Linked DNA regions of Homo sapiens. The protein of the gene in region 2 purifies or fractionates together with the protein of the main gene of each other region. This does not show direct contact. Each region holds a gene or a part of one and is shown on either strand. Other genes may lie near its edges. The genes, in order: REEP5, GPR84 and TUBGCP2.

Region 1 (3,500 bases), on a different chromosome or scaffold from region 2:
AGAACCAAGAGGCTAAGAAATGTGGGTGAAGTAGACAGAAATGACATCACCACAGGTTGCTGATTAGGCTAAGGGAAGGGAGAAGAAAAGAAAGCTCTTAAAAATAAGCTGGTAATCCTGGCTGGGCATGGTGGCTCATGCCTGTAATCCCAGCATTTTGAGAGGCCGAGGTGGGTGGATCACTTGAGGCCAGGAGTTTGAAACCAGCCTGGCCAACATGGCATAACGGTGTCTCTACTAAAAATACAAGTATCAGCTGGGCGTGGTGGCCCACACCTGTAATCACAGCTACTTGGGAGGCTGAGGCAGCAGAATCCCTTGAACCTGGAAGGTGGAGGCTGCAGTGAGCTGAGATCATGCTACTGCACTCCAGCCTGGGCAACAGAGTGAGACTCTGTTTCAAAAAAAAAAAAAAAAAAAAAAAGCTGGCAATCCTAAAGTGGGAGGAGGTTAAGGCTACAAGTTAAAAAATACCTAAAACATATTCAAGTAGACTGGATTTGTATGCCCAAAAATAGGAGTCCAGAGAAGAGAGGTCTGTGAGGGAGAAATGGGGAACATACCACTTCTGGGGCATCAGTGCTGCTGGAGAACTGTCTTGGGATTTTACTTCCCCATGGTCAGGCAACCTCACAACTCCCATGTCTAACTACCACAGAGCTCTAAAACACAAAAACCTTTCTCCAATTTCTAAAATCTGAGTCCCTCTGGAACTCAAGACCCATCACTGGCAAAATCTATATCCTCATCCATTCCTCCGAATGTTTCCTTTACCTTCTTGCTCTTAGAGAAAGCTGGCTGTGCCCTGAGGACACTGCTTTCTCAAGTGGTGGCTGTTTCTTTCCTCTCATGACCCTAGTACAAATGGATCTGGTAGGTGTTGTTTTTGTTCTTCATTGCCACTTTCAGAATCTCATGTCATCAGATTCTATCACTGAGTAGCCTTCCCTTTCCCTGTCATCCCTGACTCTTGGGCTACTTTGCCTTAGTTCTTGAAGATTTTAGCTCCTAACTTAATGTTCCTTTCTAACACTACTCCTATTATTTATTTATTTAGAGACAGGGTCTCACTCTGTCACCCAGGCTGGAATGCAGTGATGCCATCTCAGCTCACTGCAGCCTCAACCTCCAGGCTCAGGTGATCCTCCCATCTCAGCCTCCTGAGTAGCTGGGACTACTGGTACGCATCACCACATCTGGCTAATTTTTGTGTTTTTTTTTTTTTGTAGAGACTGGGTTTCACCATGTTACTCAGGCTGGTCTCAAACACCTGAGCTCAAGCAATCCACCCACCTTGACCTCTGGAAGTGCTGTGATTACAGGTGTGAGCACTGCACCTGACCTACTACTCCTATTTTAATTATTGATGATTTTAATATCCATGTAGACATATGTGATGATCTTCTAATATCCTGACCTCTTAGTTCCTCCCCTCCAATAACCCTTATATTCCACCCTACATATGGCACTGACTCCCAGGATCCCTGTTAGTACCAATACTGCAGTCCCTCCATAATCTTGTATCAAGCATCCCACTCAGCCACCATCACCTTTTATCTTTGTAGTGCACTCCCCACCCTGCTTTTTTGCTCATTGTAGATGATGATGGAGTATTCCCGCTATTATCCTGATTCAGAGTTCTTCCACCACCACTTCCCACCTTACTCAGGTTAAATTCCATTGTCAAGCATTAACCACTCCACAGTCCCACCCTCACTTCATAGTTCTTGCTGGAAATCACAACCTTGACACAACTCTCCACCTACTCTGTAGCTATACCCATGTAGCTGAGTATGGCTGGAGAAAAACATAAACAAGAACTGGTTTCACTATAAATTCATGAACGCAAATCTCAAGCATGCCTTTAACACTGCCTGACAGTCCATTTACTCTCCAACTGTCCTAGAGGGGCCAGCACACTGCAGCCAAACTCGCTTATGTAGTGTCCATGGCTGTTTTCACACTACAATGGCAGAGAAGAGTAGCTGCAACAGAGACATGATAGCCCACGAAATTTAAAACATTTGTTATCTGGCCCTTTACAGAAAAAGATGAGCAGTCCCTCTCCTTCGCAACTATTTCATACCTTCTCTTTCCATTGTCTCCTTCCCCATCCTCTCTCAATTGGCCTTCCTACTTTACTGAGAAATATGAAACAATTAGAAAGTCACTTCTGTAGGCTCCCATAGTCACATGTGCTCACAGCATACCATAAAACCTGATTTCCCTGCTGTTACCATAAACTTCCAGCTCTTCGACCAATCCCTCTACTGTATACTGGATCCTTCACTGGTCAAGGACAGAGCTCCAACAATTCACCCTCTCACTCCTATCATCATTTTTTGCTCTGTTGAATTATTCCCATTAATTTTCAAACAGGCTTTGTTTCTCCTACCTTAAGAAAAAAACTTTTAAAATTTCAGGACCATAATTCCTTCTTCCAGTTATAGCCCCATTCTTCTGCTCTCCTTTGCAGGAAATTTCTCAAAAGAAAGATCTATATTCTCTCATCCCTTTTCTCTCATTCTCTCAAATCCATTGCAATCAGGAGTTTGATATCACTCCACAAAATCTGTGTTATCAAAATCACTAGTACCTTCCTCATTGCTAAATCTGCTCAGTTCTCAGTCCTTATCTTACTTGACCTGTTGACAGCATGTAACATGACAGATCACTTCTCCTCTCTGAAAGAAAAACTTTCTGTTCTTGGCCCCAGGGATACCACACGCTCATGGTTTTCTTGCTACCTCAATTGGCCACTCCTTATCAGTCTGCTTTGCTAGTTGCTTCTCATCTCTCCAGTCTCTAAACCTTAGACTCCCCAGCGTTCAGTCTTTGGACCTCCTGTTTCCTAACTACACTACCTTCGTGATCTCATCTAGTCTCATGCTTAATATGTATAAGCTTGTGGCCCCCAAATTTATATCTCCAGTCCAGACCTGTTTCTTGAACTCTTGACACCTGTATCCAACTAGCTATTTGACTAATCCTTGTAGGTATCTAACAAACAGACACCTCAAACAAATGTCCAGGACTAAATTCCATATCCTCCCACCCACCACAACCTCCCACCCCAACAAAACCTGTTCTACCCAGTCTTCTCCAGCTCAGTGGCAATTTTATCCTTCCATCTGTTCAGGCTAAAAAGCTCGTCCTTGTCCTTAACCCCTCTGACCCATGCCCAATCCATAAGCCAATCCATAAGCAAATCCCATTACTTCTACCTTTGAAATATATCAAGAATCTGATACTTCTTACCCCCTACTGCTACACAAGGAACCAAGCCACCATCATCACCTCCAGCCAGATCACTGCAAGAACCTTTTAACTGTTCTCCCAACTTCCTGCCTTACCCCTTCAGTCTGTTCCTAATACAGTGGCCACAGGCATCTTATTAAAACACAGGACAGATCATTTTGCTTCTGTGGTTAAAAGTCCCCAGTACCTCCACATCTCACATAGAGTAGAAGCCAAACCTTTACAATGGCCTATAAGGCATT
Region 2 (3,600 bases):
TGGCCCCTGAGCCTAACCGTGACCTGTTTCCTTCTTCCCCAGAGACCACACCTGAGCATTAAAAGCACAGAATTCATTTATTAATAATTAATAATACTCCTTGGGCAGTCTAGGGCTGAAACATTGATCAAGTGATGGAGAGACTTGATTTGGGAGGCTGGGGAGAGATTGTTGTGAAAATGCCCACATGTGTTATTTCACCTATTCTCCTATTACCTGGCCACTTTGGTCCTGGAGGAGACAGTCCTGAATTCTGGTGACTAGGGTCACAGTTCTAATGGAGCCTATGGAAACTCCGGGGCCCTCTTTTTAAAATGGAGCCATATGCTTGGCGGAATTGGCGGTTCATGGCTGCATAGAGCACAGGGTTGATGCAACCATTGAGCCAGGTGAGGTTGGCAGCAAGCATGTGGACCACCCGGGGAGCCTGGACTCTGGCATCCAGAATGTTGAGCAGCAAGAAGGGGATGTAGCTCAGGGCAAAGCAGAGGAACACAGCAAAACACATTCGAGTCACCTTCCCAAATTCCGATGAAGAATCCGGAGCTCTTCTGGCTCCTTTAATTGGCTGGGCTTTGGCAGATGCTTCTGGAGGGCTTTTCTCTGCCATCTGCTTAGCTCTCTTGCTGTTGATCTGGTCTCCCACTTCTGATGAGTCCCCTTCCAGGGTCTGGGTGGTGGCAGCACTGACTGGCTCAGATGAAATCCCCTCACTGGGTCCTCCTGATGCTAACCTGCTGTCCAGCTCCTGGAAACGACCAGGCATGGCCTCATCAGTCCTGGCCACATGGTTGGAGTGGATGCTTGCCTGTCGCAACTTGTATTGGTCCAGTGCCTGTGCTGCTCGTTTGACCTGGCGGTGGATGAGGCAATAGAAGATGCCAACACTGCTGAGCCCAAGCACAAAGTAGATGCCCATGAGGATGGTGGTGTAAGGCCGGCCTCGGATGCGGTCAAAGCTGCAGGTGCAGACTACAGGTACCAGGATATAAATAGGCCAGAGGGGAGCAAAGCTGGCCACGCCCACAACCCAGGTGCTCACCAGTGCCAGCACTATCCCCTTGGCACTGAAAACTTGGGGAAAAAGCTTAGGGTGGGCAATGAGGAGGTAGCGTCCCAGTGCGATGAGGCAGAGGGTCAGGATGGAGACAGAATTGGAGGCAAAAAGGAGGAGCCCAAATACCCTGCAGAAGGTGGCACCGGTGCGCCAGTGCAGGTGGAGGTAGGTGTCCACAGAGAAGGGCTGAAGGAGCGTGCAGTAGAGGAGATCAGCCAGTGTGAGGTTGGCTATGAGCAGGTTGAATCGGGTACGGAGCTTGGGCTGGATGGCCAAGGCCAGTAGGGTGAGCACATTGCCCACGGTGCCTGTCACAGCCACCACCACCCCCCAGCTAACTGCAACATAACGATAGCCCAGCACAGACTCATGGTAGCAGGAGAAGTTGGCGTCAGAGCTGTTCCACATGATAGAGGCTAAAGAGGCAGAGGGTGGAAGAGGAAGAGGGAATCAGAACCTAGCATTCAACTTAGATCTCTTGAACAGTTCTGGGACCCTGGACATCTAAACTGTTCCTGGACCTCACCTTAATTCAGTATCCTCCTGAACCATTCCCAGGCCTCTTCATCTCAAGATCCCTAACTCTCTCCTTAGGTTCTCTTAGTCCTTTCCCATTCTCAAATATTTCCCCAAGTTTTTATCTAAATATCTCTTGCCTAAATATCTTAGTCTTATTCTGCTCCAAACCTCAGTCCTCTTCTATATCCATCCCGCTGCTCTCAGTAAACCCAGTGCCCTCCAACTTTTTTAATTCCTTCCCCATCCCCAAAGACCCCCAGGAGTCCCCTCTCTCTATTCAGCATCGTGTATTCAGGATCCTCTCTGTATTCAGTTCCCTCTGCTCCTTTCCACTACACACACATATAGGCTTTAGTCATTTCTGTTTGTTACCACCTGGGAGATGAGGAGACCAAGAAGGTAAAAGTATACCCACAACAAAAGTGCTTACCTGAGTTTCTCAGCCTTCAATTCTTTCTATAATGGAAGAAGTTCAACTCACCCAAAGAGCAGTCCTTTCTGGTGGACAGTTAGGCTTCAAGCAGGAGACATCCTGCTCTTATGTATCCTATTATAGTCCACTGAAAGAATAAGAAACTCCCCCATTACCCAATCCCAGCCACTTCCTTCACCACCTCCGGTCCTACTCATTTTGCTTCGGCTAGTGAAATCTAGGCTTCTCTGTTGAAAGTCCCCCGCTACTTACCTCAGAGTGGTTTCACTCTTCCTTTCTCCTTCCTGAAACCCAAACTCTGTTTTCTTCCCCTCTTTGCATGGCAGAACTCATCTGTAAGATCATTGCCAAGAATTGCTAGGGCACGGAGTCAGAGCATCAGAACATTTGGGCCACTCCTCAAAGGGCCAAAAGATAAGACCAAGTTCCAGGAGCAACTTTAGGTACCCCCAGAAGCCTTGGGTTTGTTTCAGAGGAGCACTACCTTTCTTGTCTCCACGGCTTAGACATGGTTCAAGTCAGAGGGACCCATGTGACACCCTAGCACATTTGAGAAACCAAGTCAGATGAAGAAAAGTGGGGAATGAGGCATCCAGAATTCTGGTTTCATTCTCCTCAAGGGATCAGGGTCCTGTTCAATCATTCATTTATCCATTTACCCAACAACTTAGTACTGAGTGCCTACTATACACCAGACTCTGATCTAGACACTGGGGATACAAGAACGTCTGATATATGGCCTTGTGCATAGTCTACTAGGGGAGACAGATACATAAATATGCAAATGCTTAATCGATTCTCCAGAGCAAGGGTGAGTAAACTTCACCCTATGGGCCAAATCTAGTCTGCTGTTTTTGTATAGCCTGTGACCCAATCATGTTTTTTTTCCATTTAAAAATGGTTATATTTTAGGCCAGGTGCAGTGGCTCACGCCCATTATCCCAACATTTTGGGAGGCCAAGGAGGGCAGATCACTTGAGGTCAGGAGTTCGAGACCAGCCTGGCCAACATGGTAAAACCCCGTCTCTACTAAAAATACAAAAATTAGCCAGGCGTGATGGGTGCGCCTGTAATCCCAGCTACTAGGGAGGCTGAGGCAAGAGAATCGCTTGAACCCGGGAGGCGGAGGTTGCTTGCAGTTAGCCAAGATCACATTGCACCACTGCACTCCAGCCTGGATGACAGAGCAAGACTCCGTCTCAAAAAATAAAATAATAAATAAATAAGTAAGTAAAATAAAAATGGTTATATTTTAAATTGTTATATAAGTGCCTATGTAATATCCTCAGTTTTATCTCTTGATTAACACAGTTTAAAATATTTATAATCAGGCCCTTTGAGAAAAAGTTTGCTGAGGCTTGCTTTAAAATACTATATAGGCCTGGCTTGGAGGCTCATGCCTGTAATCCCAATGCTTTGGGAGGCTGAGCTGGGAGGATGACTTCAGGTCAGGAGTTTAAGACCAGCCTGGGCAACATAGTGAGACCCTGTCTTTACAATAAAAAAAAAAATAGCCAGCTGTGGTGATGTGCACCTGTAGTCCCAGCTACTGGGGAGGCTGAGGTGGGAGGATCATTTGAGTCTGGGAGGT
Region 3 (3,847 bases), on a different chromosome or scaffold from region 2:
TGTTCGGTGGTCGTTCGGACGTGGTGATTTGCAGGTGACATCGCAGGTGTTGAGATGACACTGAGGATGTTGAATATTGGGGAGGTGAAGCAACTGACTCTTTTTTTGCTTGAGACAGGGTCTCACTTCGTTGCCTAGGCTGGAGTGCAGTGGCACAATCTCAGCTCACTGCAGCCTCGACCTCCCAAGCTCAGGTGATTCTCCCACCTCAGCCTCCCGAGTAGCTGGGACTGCAGGTGTGCACCATCACACGCAGCTAATTTCTGTATTTTCAGTAGAGACGGGGATTCGCCGTGTTGCCCAGGCTGGTCTTGAACTCCTGGAGTCAAGCGATCTGTCCACCTTGGCCTCCTAAAGTGATGGGATTACAGGTGTGAGCCACCATACCCGGCCTAAAGCAACCCTTGAGGTCCCTCCACAGCCAGGCGGCTGGATCCACACTAACCCCCACCCCACGGCACCTCCACCCCACCGTGAGGCTTCTCCCCACAAGGGCATTGGCCGAGGCTTCGTGGCTGTGGATGAATGAGGCCAACATGGTGGAAAGTAAGTGATGCAGAGTCAGAGGCAGTTCCTGGAAGATGCACTCGCTGTTCCCAAAACGCCAAGCCACACCCACTCCTTTAGGGATGGTAGACATTGGGGTCTCGGTTTTATTGGTCATCCTGAGAAGGCCACTGGAGTAATAGAAAGAAATGGAATTTGAAGTTGAAAAGTGTAGATCTGCCAGCCTGGGCAACACGGCAAGACCCCACCTTTACAAAAAATTTAAAAATTAGCCAGGAATGGTGGCACGTGCCAGTGGTCCCAGCTCCGAGGGAGACTAAGGATACAGGATCGCTTGAGCCTGGGTGCTCAAGGCTGCAGTGAGCTGAGATTGCACCACTGCCCTCCAGACTGGGTGACAGAGTGAGATTTGTCTCAAAAATAAAAAAAGGAAAAAAAAAAAACAAGGACAGTGTGGATCTGCATCAGGATTGAGGCTTTCGCTGAAGGGCTTGCGTTGGTGACGGATTGTAGTCTTGAGGCCTGCAGTCACAGGACACTTCCCAGCAGATGTGTGAGGCTGACAGAGTGATTTTGTAAACCGAAAGCCTGTTGTACGGAGCCTTCCTGAGCTGCCAGGGCCTGGTTTGGGTATGGTCTGGCTGGCACGGGGCCCTGTCAGGCCCTCGTGGGGACAGTTTCAACATCCTGCTTTCGTCTGGTGCTCCTCCCGGCCCCCCAGGCATGGCCCGCCTGAGGCTGTGGACTGAGAACTTGGTCCTGGGACCTGAGGGGTTTGGTGGGTGGCGGCCCGTGGCCGTCCTCGTGAGGAAGCTTAGCTGTGTGTCCTGCAGCCGTCTCATCCTCTCTGGATAGAAATTATCAAGAGTTTCTTAACGTTTAAGTGATAGCTTTTTAAAGACAAGGTTTTTTGTCCCAGAGTAACTCAGACTTACCAAGTTGTACTTACCAATGTTGAAAGTGCAGCTTCTGCTGGAGTCGCCTTTTCAACTCCTAACTTCACCTTTTCAAATGTCAGCCATGTATCTGAGCATTGCGGAGCCGAGTGTGGTGAGATCTTGACACCAGCCACCACGCCTCCCAGGCCGGCCCCGTCCTGCGGCGGTTGGAACTCAGCCTGTGGCTCCCCAGTGGGGTCAGTCAAAGCCAAGTGCAGTGGCTGACCTTTTATACCCATAAACAAAGATGAGCAAGAGTGAGACTGACCCGCAGATGAGGGCACGTGGCTGTGGGGGCATGGGAGTGGGGGCTGCAGAGCCACAGCGCTGTCTGTGCCCGCAGGCACGTTGCCCCTGGCCTCGCAGGAGTCGGCCGTGGTGGAGGACCTGCTGTACGTGCTGGTGGGCGTGGACGGGAGGTACGTCAGTGCTCAGCCCCTGGCTGGGAGGCAGAGCCGGACCTTCCTCGTGGACCCCAACCTGGACCTGTCCATCAGGGAGCTGGTGCACAGGATCCTCCCAGTGGCCGCCAGCTACTCCGCTGTGACCAGGTGGGCACCGGGCGCGGTCCCTGGGAGCCTGCGCTGTTGTGGGGGAGGGGTTAGGTCCCATCCTGATGACCATGGGGACGTCTGCATCGCTTCTAAAGAGAGCGCCCGCCTTGGTGACAACTCCGTGCCCAACTCAGTTTTGGAGGGTCTGTGAGTCACCATCCAGGGTCCTGACTCATCTCCTCCTGGGGCAAAAGTTCCCCTCTGGGATGTGGGGTTCAAGTGAGTCATTTGCTTCCTGTTTGGGATGAGACTCAGAATATCGGACATTGTATGTGCCTGCAGCTTGCCTTTTTGAGGAAGTCTGACAGCTTTTCTTCCAGGTTCATTGAAGAGAAGTCTTCCTTCGAGTACGGGCAGGTGAACCACGCCCTGGCGGCCGCCATGCGCACCCTGGTGAAGGAGCACCTGATTCTGGTGTCACAGCTGGAGCAGCTGCACAGGCAGGGCCTCCTTTCGCTGCAGAAGCTCTGGTTCTACATCCAGCCAGCCATGCGCACCATGGACATCCTGGCCTCCCTCGGTGCGTGCCCGCCCGGGGGGCATGGGGCAGTGGTGGGTGGCAGGTGTTGAACATGGCACCCAGTGTGAGGAGAGACTCTGCAGGGGCCGTGGAGCAGCTGCCCAGGGCAGGGGCGTGTGGCCAAAGCTCATGTTGCTCCATGTGCTATTAACTTGCAAGAGGAAAGCCCTGGAAGCTCTTACTGGTCAGCTGAAATCAGCAACTACAACCTTACAGTTAATACGTATCCCAAAGAAGCAGCACCGTCCCAGGAAGAAGGTTGGAGAAGCATGAGGGGCCCCAGCAGTGTTGTTGGCAGAGGCTGGGCGTGCGCTTCCTTCTCAGCAGTGAGCCCTCCTTTCTCCCCACAGCCACCTCGGTGGACAAAGGCGAATGTCTTGGGGGGTCCACGCTGAGCCTGCTCCACGACAGGAGCTTCAGCTACACAGGGGACAGCCAGGCGCAGGAGCTATGCCTGTACCTAACCAAGGCGGCCAGTGCTCCCTACTTCGAGGTTCTGGAGAAGTGGATCTACAGGGGCATCATCCACGACCCATACAGGTAGGGCTCCCCGGGACACGGGGACACGGAGGGACACGGGGACACGGAGGGACATGGGGGACACGGAGTGTGCATGCTGCCCTCTCCCGTACAGGTAGGGCTCCCCGGGACACGGGGACACGGGGGACACGGAGGGACACGGGGGACACGGAGTGTGCATGCTGCCCTCTCCCGTACAGGTAGGGCTCCCCGGGACACGGGGACATGGGGGACACGGAGGGACACGGGGGACACGGAGTGTGCATGCTGCCCTCTCCCGTACAGGTAGGGCTCCCCGGGACACGGGGACATGGGGGACACGGAGGGACACGGGGGACACGGAGTGTGCATGCTGCCCTCTCCCGTACAGGTAGGGCTCCCCGGGACACGGGGACATGGGGGACATGGGGGACACGGAGGGACACGGAGGGACACGGAGGGACACGGGGGACACGGAGGGACATGGGGGACACGGAGGGACACGGAGGGACACAGAGGGACATGGGGGACACGGAGGGTGCGTGCTGCCCTCTCCCGTACAGGTAGGGCTCCCCGGGACACGGGGACACGGAGGGACACGGAGGGACATGGGGGACACGGAGGGACATGGGGGACACGGACGGTGCATGCTGCCCTCTCCCGTACAGGTAGGGCTCCCCGGGACACAGGGACACGGAGGGACATGGGGGACACGGAGGGACATGGGGGACACGGAGGGCGCGTGCTGCCCTCTCCCGTACAGGTAGGGCTCCCCGGGACACGGGGACACGGAGGGACACGGGGACACGGAGGGACATGGGGGACACGGA

Evidence for each region.
Region 1: the proteins of GPR84 (region 2) and REEP5 purify together in Homo sapiens (affinity purification with mass spectrometry, with the first as the bait; one large-scale study listed by BioGRID). This does not show direct contact.
Region 3: the proteins of GPR84 (region 2) and TUBGCP2 purify together in Homo sapiens (affinity purification with mass spectrometry; one large-scale study listed by BioGRID and IntAct). This does not show direct contact.

What each region holds. Positions count from the first base shown.
Region 1 is NC_000005.10:112,880,728-112,884,227, forward strand, and holds part of REEP5 (receptor expression-enhancing protein 5), read right to left. Parts: intron 1-3,500. UniProt on the Homo sapiens protein: Plays an essential role in heart function and development by regulating the organization and function of the sarcoplasmic reticulum in cardiomyocytes.
Region 2 is NC_000012.12:54,362,387-54,365,986, forward strand, and holds GPR84 (G-protein coupled receptor 84), read right to left. Parts: upstream 2,101-3,600; 5' UTR 2,007-2,100; intron 1,474-2,006; 5' UTR 1,466-1,473; coding exon 275-1,465; 3' UTR 59-274; downstream 1-58. UniProt on the Homo sapiens protein: G protein-coupled receptor that responds endogenously to dietary fatty acids or nutrient, specifically medium-chain free fatty acid (FFA) with carbon chain lengths of C9 to C14.
Region 3 is NC_000010.11:133,291,711-133,295,557, reverse strand, and holds part of TUBGCP2 (gamma-tubulin complex component 2), read left to right. Parts: intron 1-1,788; coding exon 1,789-1,996; intron 1,997-2,319; coding exon 2,320-2,519; intron 2,520-2,869; coding exon 2,870-3,059; intron 3,060-3,510; exon of another isoform or gene 3,511-3,847. UniProt on the Homo sapiens protein: Component of the gamma-tubulin ring complex (gTuRC) which mediates microtubule nucleation.